3 linked regions of the Homo sapiens genome follow. The protein of the gene in region 1 interacts with the protein of each later gene in a pairwise test. Each region holds a gene or a part of one and is shown in the gene's direction. Other genes may lie near its edges. The genes, in order: PARD6G, PARD3 and PRKCZ.

Region 1 (7,120 bases):
CCCAAGTCTGTCTGGAAACATGGTGGAGCGTTGCTGCTGCCTTGCCTGTCATGGGGGTTACACAAAAGACCTTCCCTGTCCAGGCCATTCCGGGGCCCTGAATCCCTGAGCCTGTGTCCCTGTCCCCAGGAGTACCTGCTCCAAGCTTGCTGCCCTGAGTGAGCTGCTGCATGAAGAGCCGTGCCCTGTCCTCAGCACTGCCCATGTGTTATCCTGCACACACATCCACACGCAACACTGCCCATGTGTTATCCTGCACACGGGTCCACACACAACACTGCCCATGTGTTATCCTGCAACACGTCCACACGCAACACTGCCCATGTGTTATCCGGCACACAGGTCCACACACAACACTGCCCACGTGTTATCCTGCACACACGTCCACACGCAACATGATGCTCTCAGGCAGGAACCACAACAGAGGACCCACAGCAGGGATGTGACCTGTGAGGCCCAATGGGTGTCACTTGTAATTGTGAACTGTCACTGTTTTGATTGGCCATTGTCTTGCCCTGAAAAGTGGTAATTATTCCATACGGTGACACACGGAGCCCTGCACCTTTAGATGCGCTGAAACTCCCTTGGAGCACAGGGCCAAGGCCAGAGGGGTCAGCATGGGATGTTAGGGTCTGGCCAGCACGACTGAGATCAAAGGGGGCTCTGGTTTGTTGGATCCTCAAGTGTTTGCAGTTGTGGGGCCCCAAAAGAGGTGGCTGTGGTGTGGAGAAGGGGCCCTGAAGGGACTTCTGTGAGAACAGCCCCCTTATGGTCGGGGGAGGACCAGACCTTCCTGGTCTGCAGGGAGGGCTATGCACTCCCCTGAAGTTCCCCGGGAAGGTGGACATGGGGAGTGAGGACCCTGTGGACTGTCTCGTGCTCTGAGGATGTAAGGAGCCAGGACAGGATGAAAGGGGCACGTACCTCCCCTGCTTGTCTGACGCTCTCTACAGAGGACATTTACCAGAAACTTGAAAATGCTGCTGTAAAAAAGCTGCCACGGAGCTGTTGTGTTTGGGGCAACTAGATCTGACCATGGAGGAGGCTGTAACTGATCGCTTTCAATGAACTTGACGCCTTTAAATTCTAAGGGAGGTGGAGATTTTCCACTGAGACAAGGCGTCCTGATGCCCCCATGACCGAGGGTCACACCAGCAGTGTCTGCCATGGCACACGTGCCCCAGACTGTGTCGCCTGCTTAGCAGAATGCAGTGGGGCTGCTGAGAGAGACACTTGCAGCCCTGCATCTGGGCCTTTGTTCTGCTTGGGGTGCGGCAGAGAGGAGGAACACACTCATGATTGGGGTGGTGTGCTGTGTTGGTGCCGACCTGACCATACGGTGTCCATGAGCTGAGGCTGTGTGCCGCTGACATGACTGCCTTCATCTCAGAAGGAAAAATACAAGGGAACAGTCACATTTGTTTACAGGTCCAAATGGTGACAAAGTGGTAGCTATGTTAGGAAATAAGCGGAAATGATAATTTTTTTTTTTGAGATGGAGTTTTGCTCTTCTTGCCCAGGCTGGAGTGCAATGGCACGATCTCAGCTCACTGCAGCCTCCGCTGTCTGGAAGCGATTCTGCTGCCTCAGTCTCCCTACTAGCTGGGATTACAGGTGGATGCCACAACGCCCAGCTAATTTTTGTATTTTTAATAGAGACAGGGTTTCACCATGTTGGTCAGGCTGGTTTTGAACTCCTGACCTCAGGTGATCCACCCACCTTGGCCTTCCAAAGTGCTGGGATTACAGGTGTGAGCCAGCGCACCCAGTGGAAATGATAAATTATGTTTTCTGGCAACTTCCTGGAGGTTAACAGTTCAACACCATGTTTTTTCAAAACAAACCTTTACTAAAATTTTAGAGGCAAAGACATATCCATTGCGGGAAGTCAGGGACCCTGAATGGAGGGACTGGCTGGAGCCACAGCAGAGGAACATAAATTGTGAAGATTTCATGGACATTTATCAGTTCCCAAATAATACTTTTATAATTTCTTATGCCTGTCTTTAATCTCTTAATCCTGTTATCTTCGTAAGCTGAGGATATACGTCACCTCAGGACCACTGTGATAATTTTGTTAACTGTACAAATTGTAAAACATGTGTTTGAACAATATGAAATCAGTGCACCTTGAAAAAGAACAGAATAACAGTGATTTTTAGGGAACAAGGGAAGACAACCATAAGGTCTGTCTGCAGGGTCAGGCAAAAAGAGCCATATTTTTCTTCTTGCAGAGAGCCTATAAATGGACATGGAAGTAGGAGAGAGATCACTAAATTCTTTTCTTAGCAAGGAATATTAATATTAATACCCTGGGAAAGGAATGCATTCCTAGGGGAGGTCTATAAATGGCCACTCTGGGAATGTCTGTCTTATGTGATTGAGATAAGGACTGAGATACGCCCTGGTCTCCTGCAGAACCTTCAGGCTTACTAGGGTGGGGAGAAACTCTGCCCTGGTAAATTTGTGGTCAGACCGGTTCTCTGCTCTCGAACCCTGTTTTCTGTTGTTGAAGATGTTTATCAAGACAATATGTGCACTGCTGAACATAGACCCTTATCAGTGGTTCTGCTTTTGCCCTTTGCCTTGTGTTTGTTGGATGCTTATCAGTGGTTCCGCTTTTTCCTTTTGTCCTGTTCCCTCAGAAGCATGTGATCTTTGTTAGACCGTTATTAGTACGTCTGCTTTTTGCCTTTTGAAGCATGTGATCTTTGTACCCACTCCCTGTTTTACACCCCCTCCCGTTTTGACACCCTTAATAAAAAACCTGCTGGTTTGAGGCTCAGGTGGGCATCACGGACCTACCGATAGGTGATGTCATCCCTGGTGGCCCAGCTGTAAAATTCCTCTCTTTGTACTCTTTCTCTTGCTCAGCTGGCTGACATTTATGGAAAATAGAACCTACGTTGAAATATTGGGGGCAGGTTCCCCCATTACATATCTTCAAAAGGTTTAATTTGAGGTTGGCTAGGATTATATTTTACATTATTGTTAGGTGGGTAAACAAGGCTCCCCTCTGCTCAAGTCCTTGAAGGCCCAGGACCCCCCAGTTTCATCCTCTTACTATGGGCATGACATTCAGTTGTGACGTGAAGAGCAGTGTGGACCCGGTGGAAACACCCAACCATGAAAGTTAAAAGCTGGAGCCTTTTAGACACATGGAGAGCACATCACAGAGGCAACGCCCCTCACAGGTTGGAGGGTTTGGAGTGCAGGGGAGGGATTTGCAGTAGTTGGGACTTGGCCAGGAGGAGGGGCTGTTAGGATGGCCCCTAAGTGTTTTGAGGGAGGAGAGGCCCACTCAAGACTGTGGGGCCCATGGACAAAATACAAAGGCCAGGTCCTCACTCCCTGCTTAGTCTCTCTGGCACCAGAGCCAGGGGCTGTTGGGCACCCATTCTAGCCTTGAGGAGGTGAGGGTCCAGGCTCTGTGTGTGGGGTGCAGCAGGTGGGGTAGTTATTGTCCACACGTGTTCCGTCCTTTTAGGCTGCCTCTTTCTGATCTTTGTACAGACAGAGCAGACTTTTGATGGGGCTTTTTGGTCTATGCCTGTTGGTGCATCCAGGTTGCTGGTGCCTTCAGCTCCAAGTCTGGGATGACAAGGCTAAAAGAAAACCCAAGGAGCTGCTGCCATGTTGCTTCTCCGGTCCTGAGGCCCCAGCTAGTGCGACTTCTCTCCTGCGTCATCTTATATTTGTTGTTTTGTATGTAACATCCAGGGTTTTTGTTGAACTTAGGAGGGATGGGAAGAACTACATGACTTCTGGGAAGCAGAGGTCCACACACTTGCTTTTATTGGTGCAGGGAACCCTGGTCTACCTAAGTGATTTATAAGCCCCTTACGAGGAGGGGCCCGGCCCGCTGTGCCCTTCTCTGTATCCTACAGTTCTGGGCTTGAGCCTCAATCCAGTCCACCGTGCACCACGGCCAGAGCACTTGCTGCCCTGTGGGGATGGCCGAGATGCTTCCACCTGGCCCTTGTGACGCAGACAGGTTTGTGGTTTTGGTGGAAGGGAATGCACCATGCGGAACAGGGGTGGGGCTCCCGGGATGGGTGGCTGTGAACTGGGACTTGAAGACAAGCGGCTCTCAGAGGGAGGTGAAATTGAACCTCAAACTCTGTGAGTCAGTGGTAGAGAGAAAGAGGATGCTTGGAACAGTAGGTGTCACCTCTCCCGGGCCAAGCCTCACTGTACTCTGCCCGTGTGTGGGACAGGCGGCCAGGCTGTTTCACACATGGACACACACCATTTCTTACTCCCCTACCCTCAGCATCTCAGGCCTCACCTGCCCTGCATAAAACCTTAGTCTCTTCTCCTGGGCCCTGCTGCTCGTGGCTCTGAGCACAGGGCCTGAGCATAGGGCCTGTCCTCAAGGAGGAGCATGTGGATGGCCACCTGCACCACAATGTTCTTGCAGGCATGAGTTTGCCAGAGGGGTTGCCTTCTTGAAAGTGCATAGATTTGTCATCCAAGGAGACCCCTTGGGAAGAGCCCGTATCATGGAAAGCAGGCAGAGCACTGTGCCTCGGACACTGCCACACTTCCATCTGCGGCCCCATGGATCCACAGTCCCTCCCACTTAGAATGAGCAATCATGAGGCAGATGCCTTCAGTGAGGTTTAGCTTTTAGTCCAGGGAGAGCCCACTCTGTCCCAGGCCCTTGGTTAGTCCAAACCTGCGGCAGCAGCCAGACCAGATGGACTCTACAGGTAGTCTCTCCTCATCACGGGAAGAGGAGCTCTGTGCCACTCACCCTCCGGCGTCTTCTCTTGAACTTTGTGTTGTTGATCCCCACACCCCGGGCAGCATAACTGCCACCTCCCCAGATGCCCCCGCACTGTTCCTATCATATCCTGTGCACATCCAGTCTCACGGTGTTCTCCATGTAGCTGTATGTAAAATTCAGTCTGTATCTCTCCCACTCGCTTCATGGCTACTTCAGGGCAGGGACTTTATCCACTCACCTGTATCCCTGAAGTCACTGAGTAAGGATTTGCAGTGTCTATGAGGTGCAGAGAGGCCGGGTGCTGGCCAGGAACCAAGATCCCATTTCTATAAAACAAGCACAACCATAGCCACATGTACGTGTGAGTGTGCAAGAAAGGACTTGACAGACATGCACACCCAGCCCCGGTGGTCACAGCTGGGAAGAAGTATTACAAGTGTCATTTTATTTTTTTATTTTTGTGGGTACATATTAGGTATATATATTTATGGGTTACATGAGATTTTGATACAGGCATACAATGCATAATAATCACGTCAGGGTAAACAGGGTTTACAGGTATAGTTTTTAAAAGTCATCTTATTTCAAAAGTCCTTCCAGACCTTACTGTGTCAGTGGGTAATAAATTATGCTGATAACTGATGACGGATGGGTTCCGTCACTGAGCAGCATGTGTTGAGTGCTGGCCAGGATGCCAGCTCCCAGGAAGACAGTCCTCATGCTGGGGCATCCCGGCTCCAGGGTGCATTAACCCTGCTGCCTGGAGCATGTGCCAGAGCCTGTGCTAGGGCCTTCTCGTTGTCTAGGCAGCCATGGGCTCTGCTGGGTTGAGAGATGTGATGCCTGAGCATTGGCCTCCTCTCCAAGCTGCCTGAATGTTGCCTCCATGGTGGAAGTAATTTGTCTTCGAGTCCTTTCCAGAACTGTCAACCAGCATTCCCCATCTCCAAAGCAAGTCATAATGGGCCCTGCCTGCTCACTGAAATGCAGAAGCCAGACTGACCCCTGGAGCCTGGAGGTCTCTGCTCTGAGGAGCGCCTGTTTATGGCATTGCTTCTGCCTGGGCTCCCGGTCCTACTGGCTTTCACTGGCAAAGCAAAGATGTGAGCCTCCCCAGCCCAAAGAGCAGGCTGCTGTGGATGCCACCAACTCCACAGGACCAAGCCTCACAGAGCAAGCCCTTCCCTCTGCTCCCCGAGACGCCTGTCTTACAGAGTCGTGTGTGTCAAGAACAAGAGGTTTCATATAAAAATTAATGAAACAAGATTTTTTTTCTGACATGAGGAAAATGCATTATTCAGAGTTTCCAAATGCCACCAGTCTCTTCACTTAAAATTTTTACTTTAGACTAAGCTCCTTACGTTTCTGCTTGATTAATTCAGTGGACTTTCATTTTATTTTGCAGTAGCCCAACTTTAGGGTAAAGTTTACACACTGCCACAAATGTGTCATGCCACAGGCTGGCAGGTGTGGGCAGGCGGATCCCACAGGGTCCCTGGGAGACCTGAGGAAGAGAGCTGCACAGCCCCCATGGGAGGCTGGGCATATTGGTGAGCCTTGAGGCTCCATGTGCCTACAAATAGCACTGACTGTGCGGGACCTCACAGAAGGGAAGCAGCCATCCTCTGATCCCACTCCTTCCTCTACTCATCTCCCCTCATCAGCTGCTAACCAAAAACGCAGGGAAATGCTCACACGCCCGACTGAGTGACACATTCAGGGGCCTTGAATGCTGGCTAGAAGACACTGTGGTGGGGCTTGCGCATAGAAAAGAAGAAAGCAGGAAAGGTCTCTCTTAGTTGTAATTAACCTTAGAAAAAAACGAGCCTCCGTCTTACAGTTGAGAGAAGGAAATATGGGAGAATGGGCAAAGCTTAAGAAGTCCCCAGTCCAGCCTGCTGCCTCCCAGAAGGCTGAGGCACTCGCCAGCCCTCCAAGCCCTAAACCCTCCACTGCCATTGATTCTCTCTGCTGCAGCTGCCTGCTAGCACCTTTTAATCTCTGAGTTCTTTGGTTTGGTGCCTGTGGAGCTGTAAGGAGAGTGCTAGAGAGTTAATTTTAGGGGCTGCACTTGAGCTTGCCTGATTTCAGCTCAGCCTGCAGGTCTGGAATGCTCCTGTGCACCCTGGGTGCTTCGGCGTCACGCAGATGGAACAGCAGTGCCAGGTGTATGACGGCCGAGGGCTCAGGCGGGGCTCGGTTGTGTGTCCCCTCTAACTGTCCCCTCTCCCGCAGAGGAGGCCGAGCGTGGCAGCCTCGGCGCGGGCTCGCTGTGCAGGCGGAGGCGGGCGCTGGGCGCGCTGCGTGATGAAGGACCCCGGCGGCGTGCACACCTGGACATCGGCCTCCCGCGCGACTTCCGCCCCGTATCATCCATCATCGATGTGGACC
Region 2 (3,356 bases), on another chromosome or scaffold:
GATAGTAAATTAAAGATGTTTCAAAACAATAATGTTTCCTGGAAATCATGCCCAACTCTGTTGCAGAAGTGGGAAGAATTTGAAATTTCCATGTGACTCTGATTTACTTGCCTATCCTGGGGTGACAGAAAGCAAGTTAAGTAGGTCACCCTGGCCTTTGGTGAAGGTAAATGTATAAGAAAATAGTGCTTACTTTACAGACTTCCGGACTCTCCGTCCAATCTGGATGAGCAGGTATCCCGGAGAGTGTAAGTTGCTGACATACACAACTTGAAAGCCAGAGCTTTAAGGGACTGCCTGTTGCATTTTTTATCATAAAGGAGTCTAGACTTAAATCTTTCATAACCGAACTCATACTGTAATCCATTACATGTACTTCATATTAGCTAGCGCTTCTGGCATTATGGTGGCAGCTGTGTAAAATATTTGTTGTGCTTGTTTAGAATTGAATTGTAATGTTCTAAAGCGAGCAATTATTCCTACCATGGAAGCTGCCAAACCTCTAATACTTCTATACTTTGCCAGTGTGTCTAAATTGCAGGAGATATTGGTACCCTAAGCAGAACAGACACAACCTTCTCAGACACAGGAGGATGACCCTGTTTCTAAATAGCTGCACAGTCTAGTTCTCTCTCCTGTTTACTCGTTGTTAGTTTAGTTGTCTAAGACTATGCGCTTGCTGAGGACAGTCATTTTTGAATTCTCCAGCCCCTATCGCAGTGTCTGGCATGTGATGAGAGAACAGGAATATTTGTTGAAAAGTGAAAATGCATATTCCATCCCATCCTGCCCCCTTTCCTCCCTCTCCCTCCTTCTTCCTACCCTCACACTAACCTTTGGGTTTTGCTTTCTAGGCAAAGCAGGAAAAATGCCAGCTCGGTCTCCCAGGACTCTTGGGAGCAGAACTACTCCCCTGGGGAAGGCTTCCAGAGTGCCAAAGAGAACCCCAGGTACTCCAGCTACCAAGGCTCCAGGAACGGCTACCTGGGAGGACATGGCTTCAACGCCAGGGTCATGCTGGAAACTCAGGAGCTCCTTCGCCAGGAACAGAGGCGGAAGGAGCAGCAGATGAAGAAGCAGCCTCCTTCCGAGGGGCCCAGCAACTATGACTCGTATAAGAAAGTCCAGGACCCCAGTTACGCCCCTCCCAAGGGGCCCTTCCGGCAAGATGTGCCCCCCTCCCCTTCTCAGGTTGCGAGGCTGAACAGACTTCAGACTCCTGAGAAAGGGAGGCCCTTCTATTCCTGAGCACGCAAATAACGGATGCTTCATGTCGCGCAATAAAAGACATTTTCCTATGAAGACTTGTATTTTGGGAGTTTTTTTAAAACCTCGATGGTACTATGGAGTATTTCTGTTGTTGGTATCAGTGCCTTTAAGCGGTGTAGGCAAAGAAATGGAAGGCCTTAATGTCTTTGCCACTATGTCTCAAGTGTCTGTTTCATGGAAGGATTTCCCACCCTGTGACAATCATCTGTTTGAGGTGTTCATATGCTCTGCGCCTCTCCACAGTACCAGGAATCTCGGCCCTACTCATGAGTTGTCCGCGGCTTGGTTGTAACATCCCTGCACCACTTGCAGTGACAAATTCACCTGAAGTGGAGGATGACGTGCGGCCCTGTTTCTCCCTCTAAGTTCTCTTAGCTATGGGATGACATCTTAGTCTCTGGTGGAGGAAAAGTGGGCGACATACACCAAAAATTGGGGCTTTCTGGTACTTCACAGCACAGCCATTTGTCGTACTTTGTCATCACTGTGGTTTTCTCTTTCCTTTCTCAGCTCTTTGTGACGGGAGAGTCGGTCATCCTATTACAGAAGCTAAGCCATAGTCCAACATTGTTTGGTCACCATGGGGGTCCTTTTGTAACTGCCTTATGACTCAACATTACCAATAAAGTGATGATCCTGGTCTGCGTTTATACATACGCTTGTTCGGTCCTGTTCCTGACACGTGGGTTGAGTCACCACAGCTCTGTGTGGGGAACGTGGGAGACAGGAGTGGCTCCTGCCGGGGGAAGCTGGGCCTGCCATTGGCCCTGTGTCTATCATGAGGGGAGAGCTAAGAAAGAAATTCTCCTAGGAAGAGCTCATGGCCCAGTACATCCTAGTAATTATTTTAATTAGTTTTTGTTCTGACAGCTTGTCAGGAAGGGCACAGAATGGGACAGAGATAAACCAGACAGTCATTTTGATCTGCTCTCTACGGTTTTTCAAGTCAGAGGCAATTGATGCTTGTCTAATGCATCCACACACTGCATGTCTGACTGGCGATGCCGCGCTCCTAAGTAGTTCTGCCATGAAACATAAAAGACAAAGGAAAAGCCGTTACACATCACACAGAGAACATTTTCGGGTCCCACAGCGGTGGTGGCAGGAAGCTCACTCTCGCGTCAGTATTAGAGTGTGTGTGTGGGTCTCGGGGATCTCGGTGGCTCCCATCTTCCTTCATTGTTCTGAACATCCTGTATTGTAAACCATGGCTGGGGTGCTAAAGTGCCTGTGAATCCCGATGTGGAAAAAGCTGGAGGTGAAAGCTCAGCATACCATGTATTTACTTTAAAAACAGAAAAAAAGACATGTATGGATATGTCTATTTTTTTTTTATTGGCACATTGTATTTTTGTGTTGACTTGTTTTTAGAAATGATGTGTCCACACACGTACCCGTGTCTCTTCTGCATTTCTGTGTCATGGTTCTGTTTCTTAATCACGTGCGGCGGTGTCTAAGTGGTGTTACCAGTGTACGCGCAGTGACCTTGGATGACAGTGGCTCTTTCTCACAGCCTCCCCTGAGCTGTGAGAAACAGCTTTCTCTGTACATATGCAACTCCTAATAAAAGGCATATTTCTTCCTGTTCTTTTGGTGTCTCTGGTGTTCCTGGGCAGCCTTGCCTAGCTGGGCTTTTTTAAAAGGTCTATTAACAGATGTGATTTTTTTTTTTTTTTTATATTTAGAGAAAGTTGGAAGTTTCCTCACATCTGAGGAAAGTTTGCAGGAAAGGGGGCAGGAGAACCCTGGGGCCCACTCTTGGATGAGGATGGAGAGGGGGGACTCACCTGTCCCTTGGAAAAGATGGTCCCCATTATGACATCATTCTCACTCTTAGTCCATTAAGACAATATACAGTCTTACAGTTGGAAGTCTCAAAGTGGGAAGTTTGCAAACACAGGAACTGGTGGTTGATTGCGTATTTGAGCACCTGAGGAGAGAGGGGAAGGGGAGAGACAAGAACCTTCATGAGTCCACTGCAAGGCCCAGGCTGCCTGAAGAAGCCTGAGGAGTTCTGAATTGAAGGAGCCAGTACAGCTCGAACTAAATGAATGAAAAATTATGCAGAAAGCGACATGATAGTCCCA
Region 3 (7,120 bases), on another chromosome or scaffold:
TGGCCCAGCTCAGACAACGTTTGTGTTCAGGGAGCTTCTGTGTGCAAAGCCCAGGGCTTGGTGCTGAGGCCAACAGAGACGCAGGAGTCTCTCCCGGGCGGCCCAGCTGGCTGCTGGGTGCTGAGTCCTGGACGCCCCTGCTGAAGGGCACAGGGCAGCTGTTTGATTCAGGATTGGGATAGGGTTGGAGGTGGTGGCCTGACACTTCCCAAGCCCTGGGGTTTTACTGGAGCCACCCACCTGGCCTCTAGATTGGCCGGAAACTGGCTTCCACTGGAGGCAGGACTGTAGGGGTAGGGGCGTGGGGCAGGAAGAGGTCAAAGGTGAAGTGATGGCCGACTCCCACTCTGGAGTTCCTGGTGGTCAGACTTTTGGACTCCAGGTCAGGCAGCAGGCGTGGATGTCAGCTTGGGGCGACCCCAGGGTGATGGGTGTGTGACCCCCCTCCATTCCTTACTTTCCTAATCTGCCATGATGCTGTGGGCTGTGGCGAAGACCAGCCAGGTTGGTTCCTGTGGGGTGCTTGGGCACTGGGGGCAGGTGCTGGGTGGCCAGTTCCAGCAGGAAGGGGTGGGTAGCTGGGGCGTCTGTCCCCCAGGCCCAGGTGGCCCAGGGTGACTGGGTGAGGCCTGTGGGGCAGGTGGGCCCTGGGCTGCTGTGTCAGGGCCGCGGCTGTGGACCGATCCTGTGTTCTGTTTGCACTGGAGTTCTTGTCTGGGATGAGAACTTTGTTTCTTGAAACTTGTCTGATGAATTCAGATAACCTTGATGGGGAGCCAGCAGTGTCAGCGAAGAGCAGAGCCTGTATCTCTGGTTGGGACATCTCACACCCCTTCAGGCTTCTTTTTATAGGCCCTGTGCTCTTGCCCCGCGCTCTTGTGGGTGTCAGAAAGCCGTAGATTTTTCTGAAAATTCAGTGTGTTCACAAGGGTGTGATTCCCGCTCTGAGTTTCAGGAAACACCAGCTGGGCCCTGTGGTGGTCCCTCCCCTCCACGCAGGGTGAGACCAGCTCTTGCTCAGTGCAGGAGGTGAGGGGGGACCTCGGGTCCCTATCAGCAGGGAAGTGCCAGCCTTCAAAGGGTGCCTGGGAGTCCGTGAGCTTCCCCAGCCCCTGGAGTTCAGGTCCTGTCTGGGGCTGAAAAGATAAAACACACTGACTCTGTGTGACTCGGTTTTAAAAAAAAAAAAATCTGCCGGGGCTTCTGCCGTGGCTGCAGCAACGGACCCAGTGCCCACTCCGGGGTCTAAAGAGTGGCCTTTCATTATGGAATTATTTAATCCCCGCCACTTCACCGCTGGCACCGTCGAGGTCTGGGGGCAGGTCTGACTGGTTTCCTTTACCTTAGTGAAGCCGGCGGCCTGCACCGACCCGGCTCGCGCCCATCCCGGGGTCACCCACATTTGGGTGAACTTGAACGAGTGCCCGACCAGGTAACGTTGCCGGACCTCCCACAAGAGGGCACTTTCTTTTCTCCCATTTTGTCCTCATTCTTTCCAGCCAGGTAGGTCGCGCTTTTTTCTCTGTGCAAGGAAGTTGATGGTGGTCATTTTTTTTTTTTTTTTTTTAATACGGAGTCTCTCTCTGTCGCCCAGGCTGGACTGCAGTGGCGCGATCTCGGCTCGCTGCAAGCTCCGCCTCCCGGGTTCACGCCATTCTCTTGCCTCAGCCTCCCGAGTAGCTGGGACTACAGGCGCCCGCCACCGCGCCTGGCTAATTTTTTGTATTTTTAGTAGAGACGGGGTTTCACCGTGTTAGCCAGGATGGTCTCGATCTCCTGACCTCGTGATCCACCCGCCTCGGCCTCCCAAAGTGCTGGGATGACAGGTGTCAGGCACTGTGCTTGGCAATGGTGGCCATTTTTTAAACTATGGTTATGGTTAATGGTTCTATTTTGTGTGTGGGAGGGGGGAGGGGGTGGGGCTGTCATATTGTCTTTGGGGAAAGTTTCATTTATCTAATCAATGATTTGGTTAGTTGGTAATCATTTTTTAATTTGATTCAAATATGCCCCACGGTAACAGATGCCCATGTCCCCTCTGCCCCAGGGACATCTTCATCACCAGCGTGGACGCCGCCACGACCTTCGAGGAGCTCTGTGAGGAAGTGAGAGACATGTGTCGTCTGCACCAGCAGCACCCGCTCACCCTCAAGTGGGTGGACAGCGAAGGTAGCCCTTGTCCCATGTTGGCCAGAATCCTCAGCCTCAGGGGACTTCGCCAGGGCAGCCTCTGTGTGCGGAGTGTGCTCAGCCAATTCTGTGGGGAGACTTAAAGCTGTGGAATTAAACTTGTTGGCGCCAACTTTTCCCCAGTGGGGATGGTGGGAAAGAGGTTGGCCACAGATGCTTATCAAGGACCTGGGCCCAGATGCCCCTAGGAAGGGCTCTGGTCTTGAACTGCCTGCAGGGGGTCTCCCTGCCCCACCCTGGGCAGGTCCTCACCTCTTCCTCTGACCTCCTTTCTCATGTCCTGGCCTTTTTCGGTAGGTGCTTCTGAAAGGATGGGCTCTTCATATTCTAGGGACCACGGGGAGGGCACAAGCAGCCAGGGCCTGCCGTGTCCACCTCCTGTCTCTTAGACACATCCTGAAAAACAAGGGGATTGGGAGACGTCCAGAGAGACCCCTTTCTCCCAGGGACTGGCGGGCAGCTCTTGGCCAAGGACACGGCCGTGCGGGTGGAGCCTGATAGCGCCCCCGTTGGGTTGGGTACAGCCCTGCAGGGCCTGGGTTCTGTACACCTCCATGTCCCTTTCCAGCCATAGAGGGCAAGGAGCTCTCCCTCCGCCCAGGACTGACCTCCGGAGAGTGTCCTCAGCCCCGCTCACTGCTTAGCCCTCCAAGTGGTGCCCAGGGCTGCAGGTGTACTGACTTCCCTTCCGGGGTGGCTCTGACGCTGCACCGGGGGCCAGGTGACTCCCTAGTGTGGACGGCCGTCCTTGGACCTCCCGACCCTGCCAGGAGGTGGCCAGTCTGAGCATCGGGACTTTGCCCCCCACCAGACCCTTGTCTGGTGTGCTGAGCGGGCTCGTCACAGCCCCCTTTGCCTCGGGCCTTCGGCGACGTCAGCACCGTCTCCTGCCCCACCCAGGTGACCCTTGCACGGTGTCCTCCCAGATGGAGCTGGAAGAGGCTTTCCGCCTGGCCCGTCAGTGCAGGGATGAAGGCCTCATCATTCATGGTTAGTGGCGGGGTCTGTGGTGGGCAGCTCTGGGGGGCTGTTCCTGGCTGTGGGTGTCTGCCGACTAGCTGGGGGATTTAAAATGGTTTAAAATCCTATGATGCCAGAGAATTTAGGGATGTCTAATATAATGCCATTTGGGTTTTTTTCTTTGACTTTTTTTTTTTTTTTTTGAGACGGAGTCTTGCTCTGTTGCCCAGGCTGGAGTGCAGTGGCACAATCTCAGCTCACTGCAAGCTCCGCCTCCTGGGTTCATGCCATTCTCCTGCCTCAGCCTCCCGAGTAGCTGGGACTACAGGCGCCCGCCACCACGCCCGGCTAATTTTTTGTATTTTTTGTAGAGACGGGGTTTCACCGTGTTAGCCAGGATGGTCTCAGTCTCCTGACCTCGTGATCTGCCTGCCTCAGCCTCCCAAAGTGCTGGGATTACAGATGTGAGCCACCGCGCCCGGCCTTTTCTTTGACATTTTATTAACCCAAATGAAAACTGCTCTTAACAAAGAACCCGTAAACCACTCAGAGGCTCCAGTGGCCAGCGTAGGGCCCGCGGCGCATGTGGACAGAGGGGACAGCCCCACCAGCCACCTCACCTGCCCGGTGCTCCCTAGGCCCGGCTCCAGGCTCACAGCTGTCCTCAGCTTTAAGTTCAAAGCCCCATGATGAGCTGACGCATGGGAGATGTGATTGTGATCATTTCCACTTTGTCTTTAGGTGGGCGTGGGCTCCTCCCCGGTACTGCTGGGGGTCTGCAGGGCGTCTGGGGCCTGGGAATGTGGTTCCAGCGCTGTGGCCAGCCGGTCACGTCTTTGTCTCTGTGTCCACTTCTGGCGTAGCTTGGGCTCCTTGCCAGGCGTCTGGCCATGGACGATTGAGTCCAAGATGGGACCAAAGCTCGAAACCACCCATGGATTTCTGACAGATCCATCATTCTCCTGGACACCGGGCTACCTGGTTACAACACTTAATTTTCTTCGCCCTTTATATCAATGAGGCTCTAAATTTAAAGACTAGGCCGGGTGCGGTGGCTCACAACTGTAATCCCAGCACTTTGGGAGGTCAAGGTGGGAGGATCGCTTCAGCCTAGGAGTTCAAGACCAACCTGGGCAACATAGTGAGACCCCCCCCTCTCCAAAACTTGTTTTATTTTTTTGAGACAGAGTCTGGCTCTGTCCCCAGGCTGGAGTGCAGTGGCACTATCTCTGTTCACTGCAACCTCCACCTCCCAGATATAAGCGATTGTCCTGCCTCAGCCTCCCGAGTAGCTGGGACTACAGGCATGTGCCACCACACTTGGCTAATTTTTTTTTTTTTTTAGTTGGAGTCTCGCTCTGTCGCCCAGGCTGGAGTGCAGTGACGCGATCTCAGCTCAATGCAACCTCCGCCTCCCGGGTTCAAGCAATTCTTCTGCCTCACCCTCCCAAGTAGCTGGGACTACAGGCATGTGTCATCACGCCTGGCTAATGTTTTGTATTTTTAGTAGAGACGGAGTTTCACCATGTTAGCCAAGATGGTCTCGATCTCCTGACCTCGTGATCCACCCGCCTCAGCCTCCCAAAGTGCTGGGATTACAGGCGTGAGCCACGGTGCCCGGCCTAATTTTTGTATTTTTAGTAGAGATGGGGTCTCGCCATGTTGGCCAGGCTGTTCTCAAACTCCTGACCTTAGGTGATCTGCCTGCCTCAGCTTCCTGAAGTGTTGGGATTACAGGCGTGAGCCACGGTGCCCGGCCCCAATTTTTTTTTTTTTTTTTTTTTTTGATATTCAGACGTGGTGGTGCACCTGTAGTCCCAGTTACTCGGGAGGCTGAGGTGGGAGGATTCCTTGAGCACAGGAGGTAGAGGCTACAGTGAACTGTGATTATTCCACTGCACTCTAGCCTGAGTGATGGGGCGAAACCCTGTGTCAGATAAATAAATTCATAGATGTGCCTAATCTAGTCCTTTTTATTGTGGTTGTGATAGTAAGCACATTTTGCCTCTCTATGTGGAAAGATACAGTGGCTTAAAAATTCACATTGTTTTCTAGATAAAAGAAAAATAGGGCTGGGTTCAGTGGCACACACTTGTAATCCCAGCACTTTGGGAGGCCGAGGCAGGTGGATCACTTGAGGTCAGGAGTTCAAGACCAGCCTGACCAACATGGTGAAACCCCATCTCTACTATAAATACAAAAATTAGCCGGGCGTGGTGGTGTACACTTGTAATCCCAGCTACTTGGGAGGCTGAGGCAGGAGAACTGCTGGAACCCGAGAGGTGGAGGTTGCAGTGAGCTGAGATTGTGCCACTGAGCTCCAGCCTGGGCACAGAGTGAGACTCCATCTGAAAAAAACCAACAAAAAACAAAAAATGTTTGTTTTTTTAAAGTTTCAATACTTTTATGTGTATACACACACACATAAAAAAGTAGAGATGGGGTTTCGTCATGTTGGCCAGGCTGGTCTTGAACTCCTGGCCTGAAGCCATCCTCTCATCTCGGCCTCCCAAAGTGCTGGGATTGCAGGCGTGAGCCATCATGTCCAGCCAAGTTTTAATACTTTCTAAGCACCTATTTTAATAATTTATTGTGGAAGCCCAGGATATATGTTAAAATAATTTTGAACTCTGTCTTGAGTATGAAGAAGTGGAATCTAAAGTGCTTTTAAAAGTCAGTGTTCAAAGTAATTGCATTTCTTTCCCATTTTTATATAGTTTAAAAATACAAATCAGTAGCTTCCTCTGATGGCTTTGCTGTCCAGGTCCCTCTGATTGCCTTTTACTCTAAGTTTTTCCGTGGGTTTTAAAGTCGGAGCCTGGCCTACGTAGACGCACGGGGTTTTGCGTCTCCCAGGAGCGGGCTCTCATTGGCAGTGCCACGTGCGCCTTGCGTGAAGTCCACGTGCTCAGCCTGACTGAGGCGGGACTTCCTCCGTGAGACTGTTGAGTGGCAGCCGCAGGGTCTTGACGCTGTCTCTTTCTCTCTCTTGTCCAGTTTTCCCGAGCACCCCTGAGCAGCCTGGCCTGCCATGTCCGGGAGAAGACAGTGAGTACTGGGGTTTCCTACGCCGGTCTCGCATGTTACGGGGTTGAACTGTTGATCCGTTGTGCCACGGAGGTGGCAGTGGTGCCGTTTTCGGAGGTTCACCCTCGTGGAGCGTCAGGGCAGGAGCAGCCGTGGTGACCGCAGGTGGGGTTTTCACTGCAGCTGCTGCCTGTGCGTGTTCTGGCTGACAGCACCACATGGCGGGGGACTCGCTTGGCTGGTTGGTAGCATGAGAAGTCCAGGGGTGCCCTGCCGTCTCCCTAGGAGGGAGGGGCCAGGTGGGAGGCTGGACACTGCTCCTTTGTGGCTGCCTCAGCTCACGACCACCCCTAGGCCAGTCGTCTGCTCCTCCTGGTCCCTGCTGGCCCCTGAGCTGGTGTGGGGGCTCCGTTCATCCCACACTGGCTCCATTGTTGGGAGAGGAAGGAGAGTGAGTCCCGGGGGCTGTGGCTTCAGAGGGAAGCTTCTGACCTCACTTCCTACTGCATCCCGGAGACTGTTGGGCCCTGAGCAGGTGGCTACGCTGCTCTCGGGCCGCGCATCCCATGGCTGTGCTTGGTGGGGTTCCACCCCCACTCTCCAGACCCCACACGGCCTCCAGCATCCGTGCCATGCCTTGTTCGTTGTGTGGGCAGGAGCTCCTGGACCGAGGCCGCTGCCTGTCCAGCGCAGGGCACGTGGCTCAGTGCCCTTCAGGCAGGGCTTCCCCCACCCCTGCTGCCAGGGCACACACCTCGCTGGCCTCAGGCTGGATGCTGGGTGTTGGCAGTGCCCTGTGTTGGGCGGGAACTGGGGGTGGGAGCAGATTCAGGCCAAGAGGGTGAGTGGGCAGTTGGGGCGAGAGTCTTGGCTTCCAGTGAGAAGTGGGGCTGAATAGAGGTTTGGCAGTGCTTAGCATAGGGGGCGAGAGTCTCGGCTTCCA

The links.
Region 2: the proteins of PARD6G (region 1) and PARD3 interact in binary tests that used the Homo sapiens proteins (3 or more experiments, as listed by UniProt).
Region 3: the proteins of PARD6G (region 1) and PRKCZ interact in binary tests that used the Homo sapiens proteins (3 or more experiments, as listed by UniProt).

The regions. Positions count from the first base shown.
Region 1 is NC_000018.10:80,160,451-80,167,570, reverse strand, and holds part of PARD6G (partitioning defective 6 homolog gamma), read left to right. Parts: intron 1-4,967; exon of another isoform or gene 4,968-5,055; intron 5,056-6,964; coding exon 6,965-7,120. UniProt on the Homo sapiens protein: Adapter protein involved in asymmetrical cell division and cell polarization processes. May play a role in the formation of epithelial tight junctions. The PARD6-PARD3 complex links GTP-bound Rho small GTPases to atypical protein kinase C proteins.
Region 2 is NC_000010.11:34,109,061-34,112,416, reverse strand, and holds the end of PARD3 (partitioning defective 3 homolog), read left to right. Parts: intron 1-854; coding exon 855-1,248; 3' UTR 1,249-2,856; downstream 2,857-3,356. UniProt on the Homo sapiens protein: Adapter protein involved in asymmetrical cell division and cell polarization processes. Seems to play a central role in the formation of epithelial tight junctions. Targets the phosphatase PTEN to cell junctions.
Region 3 is NC_000001.11:2,053,394-2,060,513, forward strand, and holds part of PRKCZ (protein kinase C zeta type), read left to right. Parts: intron 1-2,047; coding exon 2,048-2,169; intron 2,170-3,090; coding exon 3,091-3,180; intron 3,181-6,147; coding exon 6,148-6,198; intron 6,199-7,120. UniProt on the Homo sapiens protein: Calcium- and diacylglycerol-independent serine/threonine-protein kinase that functions in phosphatidylinositol 3-kinase (PI3K) pathway and mitogen-activated protein (MAP) kinase cascade, and is involved in NF-kappa-B activation, mitogenic signaling, cell proliferation, cell polarity, inflammatory response and maintenance of long-term potentiation (LTP).